Linked DNA regions of Homo sapiens: region 1 is linked to region 2. Evidence: fine-mapped expression QTL. Tissue or cell type: whole blood. Region 2 holds a variant in brackets; the other region holds the start of a gene. All regions are shown on one strand. Distances are from middle to middle. Region 1 holds the start of ALCAM (activated leukocyte cell adhesion molecule). Region 2 overlaps ALCAM (activated leukocyte cell adhesion molecule).

Region 1 (8,998 bases), 140 kb before region 2:
TTCATTGACAGATGATACTGTTAACAACTGAAATTAAACAATAAAATTCAATGGACTTGGGAAGAGATATACCCAGAGGTCCTCCATGTGTATTTAATACAATAACTTTGGAAATCATTTACTTAAAAACAACTTGGAGTCTAGAATAAAACAGAATTTTATATTATACAGATGTAATCTCTGTGCCTCTTTAAGATTGTGTTTCTTCCTAGACTTAATATAAATCCCACTTAGGCCCTTATTTCAATCTTTGTCATCAGTATATTAGCCTAAGCCCTAGCTTGATCACCTAGAACCTTTACTAATCAGGTTTCTGTGCTCAGCATGGGCCACTTTGTTTTATTCTAATTGATGGCATATAATTTTAGTACAGCCTTTCTTCTGTAGATTGTTTCCTCACTTTATACTTCATAGTTATCACCTTGTTGACTAGGACTTGACTCATTCTTTTTGCCTTTCCTAAACCTTAGTCTGCCTAGACCAATCATTGAAGACCCAATGGAAACCCCTTTCATCTTCTCATATCATGAACCCTTGTAAGATGGTTTGAAGGCTTATATTCCATTAGGTATTTTTCTCACCACTTATCATCCATTCACAAAAATTTATCAAGTGTCCAATCTATTTTTAAGTATGGCTGAACATGCATTCACCGTAGGTGACGCTTGAAGGAGAGAAGAGTGAATCAGATTTGTTGCATGCTCTGGAACTGCATACAATTTTGTTCAAGGAGTAGGAAGGCAAACAAAACACAATGGTATACAGTGGTAGGAACAAATGTTCTCAGCTTCCAAAACTATCTTTGTTGAAATTTCATCTCCAGTGGAAATTTTGGCGGTGCTAATCAGGGGAGAAAAACTACTTCCATTCTTCAAAGGCACACACAATTGACTCGGCTATGTTGTCACATACTGATGGGATTAATATTTTAGTACAGGGAAGGGGTCCTGGCCTGAGCCTTGGGAATCCTGAGTCCTTATCTCAACAGACCGTAAGTAGGAAACTTGCCTCCGGTACCATGTCACTGCTTTTGAGCATATCATCCTGATTGATGATGAATTCCTTTATACTTAAAATACAAAGCTCTTCTCATGTCCCAGGTAACGTGAAATTTTTTCCCCCTGGATAAATGTTATTCATTTTTCCCTTTCAGCAAGATGTACCCTTATGATTCTCTGATGCATGACTAAACTATACAATAAATATTATTGGAATACTATGTATTCTCAATTGTAACAAAAGTGACTGTGATCTACATGTAGCTGGAAACACTCTTCCTCTCAAGAATTAGGTAAGATGGATCCAATCCCACATTGACTAGATTTTGAAAGATTAATTCGATTACATTACTTTGTGGAGCTTACATTTTTATGTTTATTTCTAACTCTGAGCTCTTGCTTATGCTACATTATTTCAGTTTAGAAGTGGTCTTGTCATCTCATATGCACTGTATCTGGCCTACGCAGATAGGGTGCGCTGCTTTATTAATAAATTTCCTTAATGAAAATGTGTGTGAAAGGATGAGAGAACTTATGTTTAAATCAATCGCCCCACCAAAAAAACCATACATTTATTGCTACGCATTCTTGATAAGCAAAGTGGATAGTGATGAGCAAAGTAGATAGGAATTCAGTTCAAGAATCAGAATGCCTGGGTAGAACCCTGGCTTTACCATTGCTATGAATCATTGTGTGACCTTGGAAAAGTTGCTTCGAGTCTCTGGGTTTCAGTTTCTTCATGAGTAAAATGAGGATGAAAATAGCAACTCCTTCAATAAATTTTTATGAGGGGAATACATCTATTAATTCATATAAATTGCTTAGAATATTCTAACATGTAAGTGTTGCTAATTAATAGATCTAAAGACCTTTGAACATTTCTAAACTCATGCTTTGTATTGTTGCCTTCGTCCCCACTCCCAGGCCAAATTTCTATTTTCATGGTTATTATTTTGTTTAATATAGAGCCGTTTCACCATTTTTTTTTAATGACCAATAGCCTTTGGAGTTACTAGTCCAAGTGGCTTATCAAGGCATTTTCCTAAACTAGGACACATTCCTTTCTAAAAACAATTCTGGAAGCAGTGGACTACACATTCAAATATATATTATACATATGCCCATATATATATGCATGTGTTTGTGTATAAGTATAATATGTACATATTTGTATAGTCAGTTGCTCCCAGAATTCCACGTGTGTGTTTGTGTGTTTGATCTCATTTGATCTTCACAGCAATCCCATGAGGCTAGCACTATTATCACTTTTTACAAGAAAGGAGACTGAAGCTTAAAGAGGTTAAGTGAGTTGACCAAGATCATACAGTTAGTGTCAGAGCCCAAATCAGTCTTCCTTTTGCAAATCTACCTTTAAGCAATTATGCTGTATTAACTCCCATCGTAAAATAGAGGAGATCAGATAGAGCGTTCGCGGACCTAGGTTAAATATATTGTCAGGTCGATTTATTCTAATACACCCCACTTACAACCACAGTGAAAAAGAAAACAATTCCCTAAAGCAATTCTACAGGAGTCCATGGAAATGCTAGCATTTCAGCCAAGCTTAGCTCAAGGAATATAGAGTTAAAAGGCATTTGCCTCCTAGCGATAGCCTTCCTGTTGATTCATAAGATGCAAATGAAATGTTAATGTTTAAACCAAGTGGGAGAAACTACTTATTTTGAGAGGAAAAAAATATGGTATAAAAGCTCTACTCTAGAATATTGTTAATGTAAGGAGAACTGGAAGAACAGGACAAGCAGGCTTTTGAGAAAAATCACAGCTGAAGATAGGGCTTAATAGTTTAGAGCACTAAAAGATAAACAATTTTAAAAATCAGTGTGTGAGTGTGTGTGTGTGTGTGTGTGTCTGTGTGTTGCGAGTCTCCAATCTCGCTGGTAACTCGCAGTTTTCTGATGAAAGTGCAGTATGTAACGATTACTAGTTGGCATCCTCTGCTGGAGACCAGTCTCACAAAAGGGTGACCCTGTGATGCACGAAAGGCTATTTAATGCCCCAGCGAAGTGCTTCAGGGACCAAGATTTTATTATTCTTTGGTGATGAGAGTTGTGATCCTGCATCCCTGATTTAGAGCCACTTAGGGCTCCGACAGCTCCACCCCGGTGTTCTAGAGGAAAATCTTCCTTCATGCTCTCTGCCTGATTTGAAAGCAACACAGCTTCCCGATGTTCCTCCTGGGAGGTGGTTCAATCTTTAGAAATTGCCTAAGAAGCCTGTCCATCTGCTGGAGTGCCTGGCTTTCGGGAACGGACCAAGACGGACTTGGCTTTTAATCTGAAATAATTTGAGGATTTTCTGTCTATAACTTAAAATCACCGCTTAACTCAAAGTAAAAAAGTGACACGCTCTCTAGAGGGCTTTTGTAGACATTGGGAAAATCCGTATGACGAAGTACGGTTTAGAAATTCCGGATTTAATTTCCCCCGGGAAAAGCAAATATCTTCTGTTGGTACCGGGCAGTCGACTCACGTAGTCTTCCTTTAAAACCAAGTCTATGCCAGCCGGGTGTGAGGGGAGTGGTGGGGGTGAGCAGGGGGAGGAGAGAGATTCGAAAAGTACAGGAGGAATCAGTCCAGTACAGGGGTTGCCCCTGCCAACAAGTAGCTATTCCTGTTAACTCCCAAGAAGCAAGTTTCCACCTTTGCCACTTCCTCCTGCCCTTTCCTTTCCTTTTCCCTTCACTCCCGCTCTTGGACCCAAGGTTCGCTCCCCACCGCCACCGCCCTGCCCCACTATTCTCTTTACAGGACAGAAGGCTGCAGCAGCACGGCGGAGAAAAATCTCTGAGGAATGAGTCAGTGGGATGGGCGTATGGGTGGAGGGAGAGGGCAGTCGATTTTTAAACCTCAGCGAGGGTGGGTGGGCAGTTGGAAGCCAGAGGCCTTATCACTGGGGCGCTGCAACATCACAGAAAGTGTTAGTCCCAGGGCTCTCCCTGGCGCGCGCGGCTCCTGTGCTTGCTTCTTATTGGCGGACCTGGCCCTGGGGGCGGAGCCGCGGTGAAGCACCGCTCATCCGGGCTCCAGGACCGGGGCACGCGGTTCTCCCTGATCCCGGAGCTGGGCTCAGGGCTCGGACTCAGTCCTGCAGCGCCTCTAGGCTGCGGATCCGCGCTTCAACCACCTGCTTTGCGCTGCGTCCGGGGAAGTGGGGAGGAGACGGGAGGGAGGGAGGAGGCGGGGAGAGGAGGAAAGAGGCAGCTTACACACGCCTTCCAGTCCCTCTACTCAGAGCAGCCCGGAGACCGCTGCCGCCGCTGCCGCTGCTACCACCGCTGCCACCTGAGGAGACCCGCCGCCCCCCCGTCGCCGCCTCCTGCGAGTCCTTCTTAGCACCTGGCGTTTCATGCACATTGCCACTGCCATTATTATTATCATTCCAATACAAGGAAAATAAAAGAAGATACCAGCGAAAAGAACCGCTTACACCTTTCCGAATTACTCAAGTGTCTCCTGGAAACAGAGGGTCGTTGTCCCCGGAGGAGCAGCCGAAGGGCCCGTGGGCTGGTGTTGACCGGGAGGGAGGAGGAGTTGGGGGCATTGCGTGGTGGAAAGTTGCGTGCGGCAGAGAACCGAAGGTGCAGCGCCACAGCCCAGGGGACGGTGTGTCTGGGAGAAGACGCTGCCCCTGCGTCGGGACCCGCCAGCGCGCGGGCACCGCGGGGCCCGGGACGACGCCCCCTCCTGCGGCGTGGACTCCGTCAGTGGCCCACCAAGAAGGAGGAGGAATATGGAATCCAAGGGGGCCAGTTCCTGCCGTCTGCTCTTCTGCCTCTTGATCTCCGCCACCGTCTTCAGGCCAGGTGAGCAAGGGCCTGGGAGCAGCCCCAGACAGACGTGGGCCTGGAGCAGTTTCCTAGGTCCCCGTCCCAGCCTCGCACCCCCGAGGCAGTGCGCCCAGGCGCGTGGTGGAGGTAAGGGGACCGCTGTCCTGGCACAGAGCTGTCCCCGGGCTCGGTCACCTGTGCCGCACGTTTGGGCTTGGCTGGTTAGCTCAAGTTTGGGCATCAAGCTGGGGAAACTGGGTGAATCTCCAGGAACTTGGTGCTCCGGGGTGGGCAGGATTCGCCTGACGCTCTCCCCTTGTCCCTGCGGCTCCCAGCTAGGCGGCGGACTCTTGCCCTCTGACAGTTCCTCCTGTCTCTGGGTATCCAAGTCCACGTCACTGCGCCCCGAGCAGTTTTTCTTTCGCTTAGTTCTCGGATGAAATAACTGCCGGCACTTTTTCGTGATAAATCCCCTAGTAACTTCCCCTTGGTGAGCCGAGGAAGGGATGGGAGGGGTAGAGAAGGAGAGGACTTTAATCACCTCCCCCCGCCCCCCTTGCGAAACCTGCTAAAGCTTAAAATCGTGGTTTCAACGTTACCCCCTGCGGTCCCCGTCCATTGTCTGGGCGGGTGGTGAGTGAAAGGGTGACCGCAGGCAGATAACACAGCCAGAACAGGAATTAGTAGGTAGGCCTGGGAGACACCTCAGTGAGAGGTTTGTGAATTTCCAGGACCTGCTCATAGAGCCTCAGTTCTCAGTTCTGTACTGAGTCTTGGAAGAGAGAGAGAGAGAGAGAGAGAGAGAGAGAGAGAGAGAGAAAAGGCAAAATTCCCAACAACTAAAATATCTCTCGGGAAATCCCTTTCCACACCCTCGGGGACGTCCCCTGGCCCTGGTATCCTCAGGCCCGCCTGGCGGCTGACACAAGTTGTTCTAACAGGGTATTCCGTGCGCTCACAGTTGCCTGACAGAGCAGCAGGTTCCTTTGCTCCCCTAAACTGAAAATTTAGGGGATTTTTTTTTCTTTGAAGTTTTTTTTTTCTATCCCTGCGTAGACAGTTGCCAGTTAAACTCCTACTTCCTGGTATTTTGGCCTGTTTGTTCTTAGCTTTTTCTTTAGCTTTTATCAAAGAAAAATCTCACTTCCTTTTATCCGTGCACATCCCTTCAGCTGTCGGCAAGCTCAGGTCACAGAAGAGGTTTGAAAGCCTCTGAATCTCTCCCAGGAACTGGCGGGGAGAGGGGTTTGGGGGCCAGAGCCTGAGGAAGAGATTACAAGTGTTTGCGAGCTGCTGCTGCTGCTGCCGTTGCTGTGTGTGTGGGCGGGAGGAGTGCCCTCTCCAGATCTCTTTATTAAAGTTACATTTCTGGGTGAGGTAATGAGCTCACCTGATGTTTCTGAGGCTGAGGGAAAAAAAAGGCGTCTGCGTTCTCTGACAAATCTCGGGCTCTGGGGCGGGGACTGTGAAACCATAGTTCAACCGGATTTAAAGCAGGTGTCCTAGTGTAACAACGCTGGGGAGGTAGGTGGAAAGGCGAGACCCCCTTGGGCCTGGCACAGTGTGGATTTCACTTTTTCGAGATTCCACTGTCCGATGGAGGAAAGGACACTTTGGAGCCAGGGAATGAGCCAAGAAGGGAGGACAAGGGTGATGTCGGTTTGTAACATGCAAACGTCCACACGCCCACAGTTGGTTTTCCGATTAACCCCCTCGAGACTTGGAGAATGTAATCTCACCCTCGTCCACACCCCTGACACAGGCACATAACCAGTTTCCTTTTCGGTGCCGTCACAGGCGGGCCACGTCGCAGGATAGGTTTTTCTACACATTTAACTGCTAAAAGGGGGAAAGTTCCGCTTTCAGACCTCCTTCACGGTGGTTCTTTTGGCGCCACAGGCTCGTGTGTCCAGGGGGCACCGAGCTGCGCGCTTTCGGCGAGCGGCTAGCCCCGGCTCACCGCAACCAGCCACCGTGAATCTGAGGATCCGATATCGGCCCTGGACCCTCAGATCCGTGGTTTCGGTGAATTACCGAGCTGGCATTGCCGAAATTCTCATTGCAGTATCAGTGTGTTTTGAAAGGAAAGGTTACAGCACTAAAGGCGCCGTGTCTACACTGAGGAAGCAAGTCTTGGACAGTAAGTGCGCCTTCTTCGGAGCCCTCTGCATAGCAGAGCCCGGTGGGGGCGCGGTGCCAAAGGCCGGCTTCATTTGAGCGGGGTAACTGCCTTCCCTGCCGGCCACTCTTCATTTCCGGAGCAGTTTTAATAGTGTATGTCCAGTTGTAGAGGTCAAAAACTCGAGTTTGTGAAACTGCTTCCCCGGGTCTTTCGGCTTGTAGTCGCTACAAAGTCATTGATATATTTTAGGCGTGCCACGTTACCTGTTTTGAAAGGAGGAGAAAAATATATGAACCACGAAAACTGAATTCAGAGATGAAGGCAATGAAGTGTGTGTTCAACATCCGAGATAGCAATATTCTCGTTATTCTTGTAGAAAGAGCGTCAGCCTGTGGTGACATTTTGTATTGCTTAAAAAAAGAATGCTTTTCTGGATTATTTACAAGGAGATGGGGCGCTGCAGTTAACTCTTTCTTCACTTGGGTCATCTGTATGAACCCCTCTATGGGATTTTTCATAACTACTCACTGATCTCACTGATATAAGATTCATTCTAAGACATAAGCACACATAAAGCTTTCTTCAGTGGGATATTATGTTTGAAACATATCAATTGATCTCAACAGGACTTGGGAAAGCATCAACTCAAATAATGTCCTTTCAAAGACTATTGATGTAGGACTATTGAAATTGATTAATTTAAAAACTAAAAACTGTTTAACAGCCAATATATATATATTTTTTCCTTAAGGATTTATTTAATCCAATAGCAATTTACAATTTAATGGAGCATTATTTGCAGTAAATTGCTTTTCTAGGCTTTCTTCAGGACATCTACCTTCAGGCACTTGAGCAAGTCATTTAACCTTTTTGAGCTTCAGTTTTCTCATACAAAATAAAAAGACAGACTAGAGGCCTACTCTCTGAAATGTCTCCCAGCTCAAAAACTCTTTGTTTCTGAAGTCTTAAGGTAAAAAACCAATTTAGGCAGGCAGAGTCATTTTTCAACACTATTTTTCTAAGGATCTCAGTCTAGACAAAATTCATATAAATTGTATTATTAGAAAAGTATCAGTAGACCCCAATTTCTAATTTCCTTTTTTTTTCTACCTTTAAAAATTCATGATAACATCTATGCTTACTCTTTCCAGCCTTAGTAGGGAAAAAAAAAAGCGTGAAGGAGAGAAATTAGCCTTCCACTCTCCTGGGAAAAGAGGACCCAAAAGTAAGAAAGGATAGTAGGCCTCAGAAAGCCCTGCTAGTGTAACTCATCTCTCCTGCAAACCTGTTCCTATATAAACTGCATACATAGTACCTAGAATGAGATGTAAATTATGGTTTATGCTTAAATATTCATATGACAAAGCCTCATATTGTACATCCTAAAGTTGCTCAAAAAGTTGATTTGCAACATGGTTGTAAATGCAAGACAGAAGGAAATAGAAAATACTAATATTTTTCTATTGTTTTAAAACTTGTAGAAATCCAAAATATCTTGTCTTACCAGATTCCAAACCTTTTCTGACTTTGTAAAAAATTCAAACTAGCTTATCTTTTTTAATAGACATTCAGATGAAAATGCATGTCTACCATTGACTTATCAAAAAGAAGAAAATTAATTAAATAGTCTTGTGTTATTAGAAAAATTGTATATTGTAGTCAGTATTCATGTGTTCAGTTTCTAACTATGTCATGTAAGAATGTTGTGACCTTGGGAAAATTATTTTTCTGCTCTTTTTTATTTCCCATCTGTGAATTTCTTTCTGTGCAATGTGTGGTTCTGATTGTGTTGAGATTAGTAATTCCCTTGCTCAGCATTTCAAATTTTTTAAGTAAAACGTGCTATATTAATTAAGGCTTTTATTATATTGTTAATAGAATAACATTCTTTAATTTATTCCACTTAATTATCACTTTTATCATTTTATTAAAATAATGGAAAGATGTTTCTTTTTTTTTTTCTCTTTTTTCTTTTTCTCCGTCAAATTTTCATGCCACTAACCGTGGGCCTTTGTAAAACTTAGTACCACCTAAGTTGTCAATATTACTTGGTGTAAGATGGCAGCAGTTTGTCAGATAGTATTTTAAATG
Region 2 (8,998 bases):
TTCCCACAGAAATCATTATAAATATTCTCATAGCTACAAAGGCTTTAGAACAAATAGAAAATTTCCATAACTTTATCTTTCTGAAGTATAATTGTGTTGAAGTATGATCAGCGATTTTTATTGATCTTATGTGTTTACCTTGGTGACTGTTAAATAAGATTTTGTATTGGAAATTTTCTTTGTTGAACAGCTCCCTGTTTTTAAAATTAGAAACACAAATTTATGGATTTCTACATAACAAACTCTCTAAAATGATACTCTTTACCTAAGAAGTATGTAATATATGCCTGTTAATTAAACATGTACTAATAGTTATATTTGCATGTTGAGGCTTCCTGCAATTCACAAAACATAAAGAAAATGTTTTAAATTGATTCTAGGGGTGGTGTTCTTATTAGCTGTTGTAAATACACAGAGAGGTAGAATTGTAGCTGAAGAACACACACTTATAGCATATTTTTGTAGGACTCAGGTGGGAATGAACTTGAAAATTACCATTGGATTTTCAGACAGTAATACAAAGTATTTCAGTCTTTTCCATGTGGTTTGTTTGTTTGGTTTCCAATTAATTACTTCCTGGGGGAAGCATTGGGAGTTGTTTCAGTTATAGATTCATAACAAAATGAGATTCATAAACTAAATACATGATATAATCTGAAGCCCTGCTAGGACTCTTACAGCTCGTCTTTATAACCTAGTATTCCTTTAATGAGTAGGAACAGTGAACTTTTTTTTAAACCCAAATGACACTATTGTCTTTAAAAGCTGTTAAAAATAGCAGAGCCAAAGACGTAATATTATAATATTCAGTTAGGGGAATTTTGAGTGTCATTATCTCCCTAAGCAGTAACCATGAACAAATTATCAAAGCCATTGTCTCTTTTAAAATGGAAAGATGAACCAAATGTATTAGCACCTCAGTGGGATTGGGAATATGTGAAAAACATAATCATAAAACAGCAATTGCTAAGCCTCTACTCAAGACACTCTTGTTCATCAGAGGTTTTGGTGCTGTTGGAAAGTCAGCACCTGCTGAAATCTGCCTGGGGATTCAGCTGCCTAGACTGGAATCACCTCTGCTAATGGATGCCAAAGCTTTGCCCTTGAAGATGTTTGTGTCCTTCCCTCTCCCTATACCAGTGGAATTTAGATGAGACTGTCTAAATGTAGAATATATTGCATAGGCTGAAGAAATTGTGTGTATCACTTGTTTTTAATTAATAGACTATTTTTATCTGTTCTTAGTTTATGGAAAAATTTGAGTGGAAAGTAAAGAGCTCCTATATAGGCCCGCAATTCCCTGCCTCCCCACCCCCTTGCCCCTAGTTTCCCCTATTATTAACATCTTTGCATTAGTGTGGTACATTTGTTGCAATTGGTGAGCCGATGTTGATACATTATTATTGACTATAGTCCCTAGCTTACATTAGATTTTCCTGTTGTGTTGTACATTTTATGGGTTTCGACAAACACTTAATAATGTTTATTCATTATCATATCAGAATAATTTCACTGCCCTAAAAATGTCCTGTTCTCCGTCTATTCATTCTTTCCTCCCTCCCTTGAGACCCTGGCAACCACTGGTCTCTTTACTATCTCCATAGTTTTGCCTTTTCCAGAATGGCATATAGTTGGAATCATACAGTATTTAGCCTTTTCAGACTGGCTTCTTTTACTTCGCAGTATGCATTTCAGGTCCCTTCGTGTTTTTTTCATGGCTTGCTGGCTCATTTCTTTTTATTGCTAAATAATATTTCATTGTCTGGATTACCACAATTTTTTCATTCATCTGTTGAAGGACATCTTGTCCAAGTTTTAGAAGTTATAAGTAAAGCTTGTATAAACATTCTTGTTCAGGTTTTTGTGTGGACATAAACTTGCAACTCATTTGAAAAGTCGTTAATTGTGAAAAGTGTTTTTGACAGAGAGGAAAGACACAGGTCTTTAAGTTAGAAAGACTTTAATCTCAACCTTGCCATTTTAGTCATTCAGTACGTTTTTATTGGAGGTCTACTGTGCTACCCCTGCCGTTTTTGGTGTTAGAAATGCATATAGGGCTCCTCTGCCTGTAACCTGAGTGCCCCACCTACATTAAAAAGCCTCATTAGACTTCTGGTTCCTGATCTGAAAGATGCCTATCTTCTTGAATATTCATGATTTTCTATTTTATTTTGAAAATTAGAACAGCTGCCACGGACAGGACTTGTATTTCCTGGGAGCAAGTGCCAAATTGCTACATAGCATCCCATTGAGAAAGAAGTGATAAAATGTGTTAGTTCATTTTCTTTCTAGTCCTTCTAACCTATATGTTTTTTAAAATATTTGTCTAAATATGAAAAGCATTTTAATACTTTCCAAAACAATATTCTTGAATTATCCACAATATAAAATGAAATAAGGACATGGAATCATTTTTTGTATATCTAATAGTGATGAGAATTGGACTTGAGCTGAGAATTCATTTTGAGCTCTATCTCCATCACATACTGGCTTCGTGATATTGGCTTATTCTCTTGACTTTGCAGGGAGAACAGTTTCCTATTGGTAAAATGAAGGATAATAATATTTGTTCATCATACAGGTTTCTTTGCTTATCATACAGGACTTTTGTGAAGCCCAAATGCAAAAATGTACAATGTATATAAAAGAATGTTGCAAACTATAAAACACCATAAAAACATTCAGTATTATTACCAATTGCTTTAATGTATTTCTAGGTCTATTTAATCTTTTATTGTATATATTTAATCTATACAACATGAGGTTTTGATATACATATGCCTTGTGAAATGATGACTACAGTTAAGCAAATCAACATATCACTCTCCTCACATAGTTATCATTTTTTGTGTGTGATGAGAGTACCTGAAATCCACTCTCTTAGAAAATTTCTACTATACAGTACACTATTATTAACCACAGTCATCATGCTGTACTTTACATTTCTAGTTGTGTCCTATACAGTTGTAACTTTGTAGCCTTTGACCAACATCTCCCCACTTCTGACATCTTCCCACCCCTGGTAATCACCATCCACTCTCTGTTTCTGTGTATTTGCCTTTTCTAGATTCCACATATAAGTATGATTATGTAGCATTTGTCTTTCTTTGGCTTATTTCAATTAGCATAATGTTCTCCAGGTTCCTCTGTGTTGTCACAAATGGCAGGGTCTCCTTTGTTGAGGCTGAGTAATATTTTATTGTGTTTGTATCTATATAGACAATTTATTTATCCTTTCATCCATAAATAGACACTTTGGTTGTGTCCATATCTTGGCTATTGTGAATAATGCTGCAGTGAACAGGGGAGTACAGGCATCTCAGTATTGATTCCTTTCTTTTAGGCATATACCCAGAAGTGGGATTGCTGGATTATCTGGTAGTTCTATTTTAACTTTTTGAGGAACCTTCACACCGTTTTTCATAATTGCTGTACCAATTTACATTGCCACCAAGAGCGTACAAGGATTTCCTTTTCTCTACATCCTCATCAATACTTGGTATCTCTTGTTTTTTCAATAAGAACCATCTTAACAGGCATGAGATGATATGTCATTGTGATTTTGATTTAATTTCCCTAATGATGAGTGATGTTGAGTACCTTTTCATATATCTATTGGCTAATTATATGTCTTCTTTGGAAAAATGCCTATTCAGGTCATGTGCCTGTTTTTTTTATCTGCTTCTCTGTGGGTTTTGTTTTGTTTACTACTAAGTTTTATGAATTCCTTACATATTTTGGATATCAACCCTTTATCAGGTATATGGTTTGCAAATATTTTCTCCCTATTCATAGGCTGACTTTTTATTTTGCTGGTTGTTTCCTCTGCTGTGTAGAAGCTTTTTAGTTTAATATAGTCTTACCTG[C/T]GTATTTTAATTTTGTTGCCTGTGCTTTTGGTGTCTTATCCAAAAAAATTATTGCCAAGTCCAATGTCAAAGAGCTTTTCCCCTATGCATTCTTCTAAAAGCTTTAAGGTTTGTCTTACATTTAAGTCTTTAATCAATGTTAAACTCATTTTTTGTATATTTTTTATTTTTAATTTAACTAACCCCTTACTAAATTGGGGTGGGATTTTTTCATCACATCAGTACTGAAATCTTTATTTTCTGGAATTTCATAGTCTACTAATGTCAGTGGGTCAATACGGTTATGATCTGCCTAATTTCCTCCAGATGTTAGGATCCTCTGAAAAGCAGATGTCAAAATGGATTTAACATACAAAGAATGTATTAGGAAAAACACCTATGCAAGAAAAAATGAGGAAGAAGATGGGGGTGGTCGGTGTGGAGAATAAGCATACCGCAGAGTAAAGATGGTCCCAAGTGAAAGGGAGAGGATATGAAGGTTGGGTGGAAGCGTTCTAGACTGTCATGCAGTCTAAGGAAGGTTCATCAGGGAATCGGGGTATCCGTGAGCTATAATCAGCCCTCATAGGAGTCTCTTGTAACCAAGAAACTTGCCTGTCTTAGTATACTTGTTGCATTCAATTATTAGCTGGGAACAGCTGGTAAAAGTGTAACCTTAGCACAAATCTGGTAATAGACAGAATGTGGCAGTTGGGTAAGTTATGTTCCCAGCAGTTGGAGATCTATGAGGAACATTTTCATGTCCACTAGACTTCACAGAGACTTTTTTCCCTAAATAATAAACAAAAGTGATGAACCACTTATTTAATAATGTTTTACTAAGGATGTGAAGAGGAGAAGCAGAGACAAGTGAGACAGAATGCAAATATTACCAAGTGTGGGAAACCATCTGAGAGCAGGCACATTCCCAGAAGAGGGGTTCATGTCAGGGTTTAGTAACACTGTCCTCATGTTCGAGTTCCTGTGTAATCAGTCTACAGGTGCCATTGACCTGCTGTAAGAACTTGTTTTCCTTATCCAGTGTTTTTGTTTATGTTTTACCACCTTGTTTGTGATAGCTAGTCTTCCAAAAATTCTTCTGGGCGGTGCATTTAACCATTTCCTAAATTGCAGAATAAATATAAGACATTAAAAAACTACATTTGGCCTCTGGGATATAAAATGAAGTTTTCAAAGAGTTAAAATCTTTGGGAGTACTGGAAAATTTCAAAACGGGAGGCACCTTCAGATGCAGATTTCATACCCTTAGAAATGATAAAACTACCTTTCAATACAGCTTCCTATATTTCTCATCTCTACTCATTGCCTTCCTAAATTATCTTGTTCTTTTTCCCATCTTTCCTCCCACTCTTCAATTAAGAAGAATGACTGTCAGGAAAAATGGAACACATGAAAAGTTATTGTTAAAATATTAATAGATGTCAGTATGACTCTCTAAGTTCATGCATTCCAGAGTTACCCCACTGGGCTACCATTGTGGGCAAGCTACAATGAGCATGACTCTCCATTCTCACTCAGTCCTTGAGGTGACACACCATCTCTTAAGGCAGAAAGATGATTTTATCTTCAGATAGCAGATTATACTGATTTCCCAAGTGTATGTGACTATTTGTTTTATTTTTAATTTCCTCTTTCCTGTGCTTTTAGTCTCCTTCAAAAATTTATCTTGGACAAACATTCCATCTCTCCTTTCTCCTCAAAGCTAGAAAACTAGATCTTATAGTAAGCTGACTTCAGTTCTTAAAGAAAGGACAAAATGCCATAGAAAGCCGTAATATTCTTCCTATGACCTTAACTTATATTGCAACCCCTCCAGGGAGCTGTCAATTAAAAGCATGGAATTTACACAAATCTAAGTCTCGGAAATCAGCCAGCAAGCTGCACCAAATATGTGGAAAAATCTATTAAATAGCTTTTTAACCTTTACTACTTACCATGTTTGATTGTACAAATCTATATCCTCAGGAGACATAGGCAATGCTAATTGTGATTCATGTGAAGAAAAGAGCAAAAAGGTATTTCAACTGATATAAACATTTTTCAGTATGAGGTTAGATACTTAATGTGGAATATACCAGAAGCTAGCATACCGGACTAGATCACTCAACCAATTCAGAAGCAGAAATCTACTACTCTGCTCATTTAGTAGCCCTAATAATCCACTTTTTTATCCCTGGTAATTCACTACCTCAATTATAACACAGCATTTTCTAAGTCTGTAATTCTAATACTATTGAATATTACTTTAAAAGCTAAAGCAATACAGTTCATGTAAGCTATTATTAACAGATGCTTTCTGTGAAAACAATGATGATCTTATTGGCTAAAAGTCTTTGTGATATATTTTTTCTAAAGCATTTTGAGGGATATTAAAGCATTAGAAACTTTTGGTTTTGGAGTTTGGTAGTGTTATCAAAGATAGCTTTGATTTTCTCAAATCAAGAGATCTTTTTGTTGTCATGACATTAAACTATTTGCAGAAAACAAATTTAATAATGTCACAATAACTGTGAGTTCTTTCTGAAGACAGACTTCATTCTAAACTCCAAATTTTCCATTACTTCAGATGATTCAATTAAGATCCTTTGGGAAGCATTATGCCTGCCTTTCTGTTGAAATGTTTTTACGAATGCAGTACACTCTTCTTCTTGCTAAAATAGGTGAATTGTATTCATAATTTCAATACAACTTATGTGGTAAAATGCACAGGAAAGTGTAATTTTTCTCCATTTAAGTAGAACTGATACTCTGAAATAGTTAAACTTAGATTTTCATGCTCAGAAAATGTACAGAGCAATAGAATCTAAATATATTCATCTGTCCTTTGCATTACTTAGCCTGAATTAATATAACTAATATTTCAAATATAAGTTTCTACATCTCCAGTTAAGCTAGTTCCCAAATGAAGTCAACAGGATCAGAATCTAGACTAAATTGAAGAAAATTTAGTTCTTTAGCAAGAATTAAATTGAGAAAATGAATCAGGGGAGAGGGGAGCAGAAGGAAAATCATACTTTGCTAGTTATTTTTATTGTATTGACTAATTATCTGAGTGAAGGACTCTACTTATATGAGCACCTTAAGGACTCAGCCTCAAATCCTAATTAGAAGTATAATAGTAGGAAATAGTCAACTTTCGGAACTTCAGTTAACACAAATTATTAATTACATACATGTTTTTGAGCAAAATATATAGTATAAAGAAAAACATACTTAAACATTTCTCCTGTTTAGTCCTCCTTACTATGAAAATCTACTTTAAAACAAAATAGAGGCGATTGTTCTTTTTACACACAAAATCTAGATTTTTTTGGTTCATTGTATTCTTTCTGCCTATCCCCCCCAAAGCACCCCCTTCCCACGCATACAGAGCATGAAGTATTTTTAAATGTTTTTTATTTAAGTTTATCACCACTTAAGGGCCTGTGCCTTACTTAGCATGTTGGCATAGACCCCATAGCCTGGCCAAAAATACTCATCATTTAGGAATGATGACTTGGTAACACAGGGGTTTCATTGTGGACAAGTATGTGGAATCTCAGTCTCCTGCTCAGAAAAAAGAATGTGAGGATCATTGCCAAGGAAACCCTAAAGCCCAGTGCTTTTAGTGACATTTCAAATGTAAGTCTAGATCTGTGTACTTTTTTCCATCTATATTATATTCCATTAAAATGTTTTTAAAGCAAAAATAGCTTTTGGGGGGACAATTTTAAGAGGGGACAATTTTGGGGGAACACTAATCTCAAATCACCACAGTGCTCCCCTCTCACTACCCTGTAGCTGTATTCCCTAAAATTTCAAAGAATAGTATAGTAGATGCCTTAAAGTTCATTCCTGGATCTCAAGTTAAGAAATGCTAATGAGTGCAGTAGAATCTGCATATATTCTGATTTAAAATTCATGAGGCAACTCAAAAAATAAAAATAAGGTTTCACAACTTCAGTCAATTCTGTTGCTTTTTGATCATTTCTAAATAAGATTTTTGCTTATAATTTAAAAATGGCCCCAAAAGGAATCCAAATGCTAGTGTTGATGCTGAAAGTAAAGAGAAAATAGAGATCTAACATTTTATTGCATTTTATTAGAGAAATTTTATGTGCGCTTATGAATTTGGGAAAACTGCCAGTCTTAGGACATGTTCCTTATGAAGATCAAAGATCTACTCTGTAGAAATTGTTATAATAAAAATTGAGTTTGCCCAAAGAGAGAAAACCAAGCGTCACTCAGTGCTTCTCATGCACTGTGCTATTGAGGTAGTTCCTATCTTCCCATCTATAGAAACCTCAATTCAGTGATGAGGTCAAATGAAATTTCCTCCAAGAAGCTTTTACCAATATCCTCAATCTCATTGCTGGGATTCCTTTCTATACAGTCCCACAGCATTTGGTTTACCAACCCAAAACCTCACACTGATTTCATCTTGTTTCTTAAGGAAAAGGCCTCTGTATTTTACTTATACATTTTCTTCACAAAGCACACCTAAAACTTGCCCTGTAGCAGGTGTCCAATAAATATTTGATGCATGATTGAATGATTCGATGATTTTTGAGATAGGCCTTAAAGGAAACATAGGAATCTGAACAGAGTAGATGGGGCCAAGGAACCATAAAATTAGGTAGAGATGGGGTAAAGCCTAAACTAATTGGGAGAAACTGTGACGTATCCAGCCCCATAGATCATTTCATGCTTGTAGAATAACAAACTATCAGGCTAAGGTAAATTAAGAAGGTAATTTTCTGCACAGCAATGTAAATATCGATAGTGTATTTTTAAAACTTTATTGTTTGTGTAATTCTTTTCTATGACATAATATGGATTATTATATTGGCTTATTGTTTAATAAAAAGATAAATATTTAGAGCATTAAATTATATCAAACTTGGAAGTAAAATAAAGAGTACCTATCTTAAAACATAATCCTGGGTACTACTAGTAGTTTATAATTTAGTAACATGGGCATTTTCCCTCTGAAGATTATTCCACAGTGGCAAGTGGTGGGGGGAGGAGGAAGGAATAATTACTATTTATCTTATTTGTAGGCCTCACTCAATTATATCTACATTATAATGTATAACACTTGAGAAAGGCAATGCAGAAAATGAATTTTGAATAAACATATCCCTACTTCAGAT

The links. PIP is the estimated chance that this variant, and not a neighbour inherited with it, causes the effect.
Region 1: ALCAM starts here. The variant in region 2 is fine-mapped to the expression of ALCAM in whole blood (INTERVAL, PIP above 0.99).

Annotation. Positions count from the first base shown.
Region 1 is chr3:105,362,661-105,371,658 of GRCh38, forward strand. ALCAM (activated leukocyte cell adhesion molecule) reads left to right here and starts at 4,249. Exons shown (of 16, transcript NM_001627.4): 1 at 4,249-4,821. The coding sequence starts at 4,749. RefSeq lists silencers at 4,194-4,293, 4,624-4,743 and enhancers at 5,774-5,933, 6,270-6,770, 6,771-7,271.
Region 2 is chr3:105,505,876-105,514,873 of GRCh38, forward strand. All of the region lies in intron 1 of ALCAM (activated leukocyte cell adhesion molecule), which reads left to right. Among named protein-coding and RNA genes, the nearest start is that of ALCAM, 140 kb to the left of the region's middle. The variant C/T (reference allele first, on the strand shown) is at 3,867.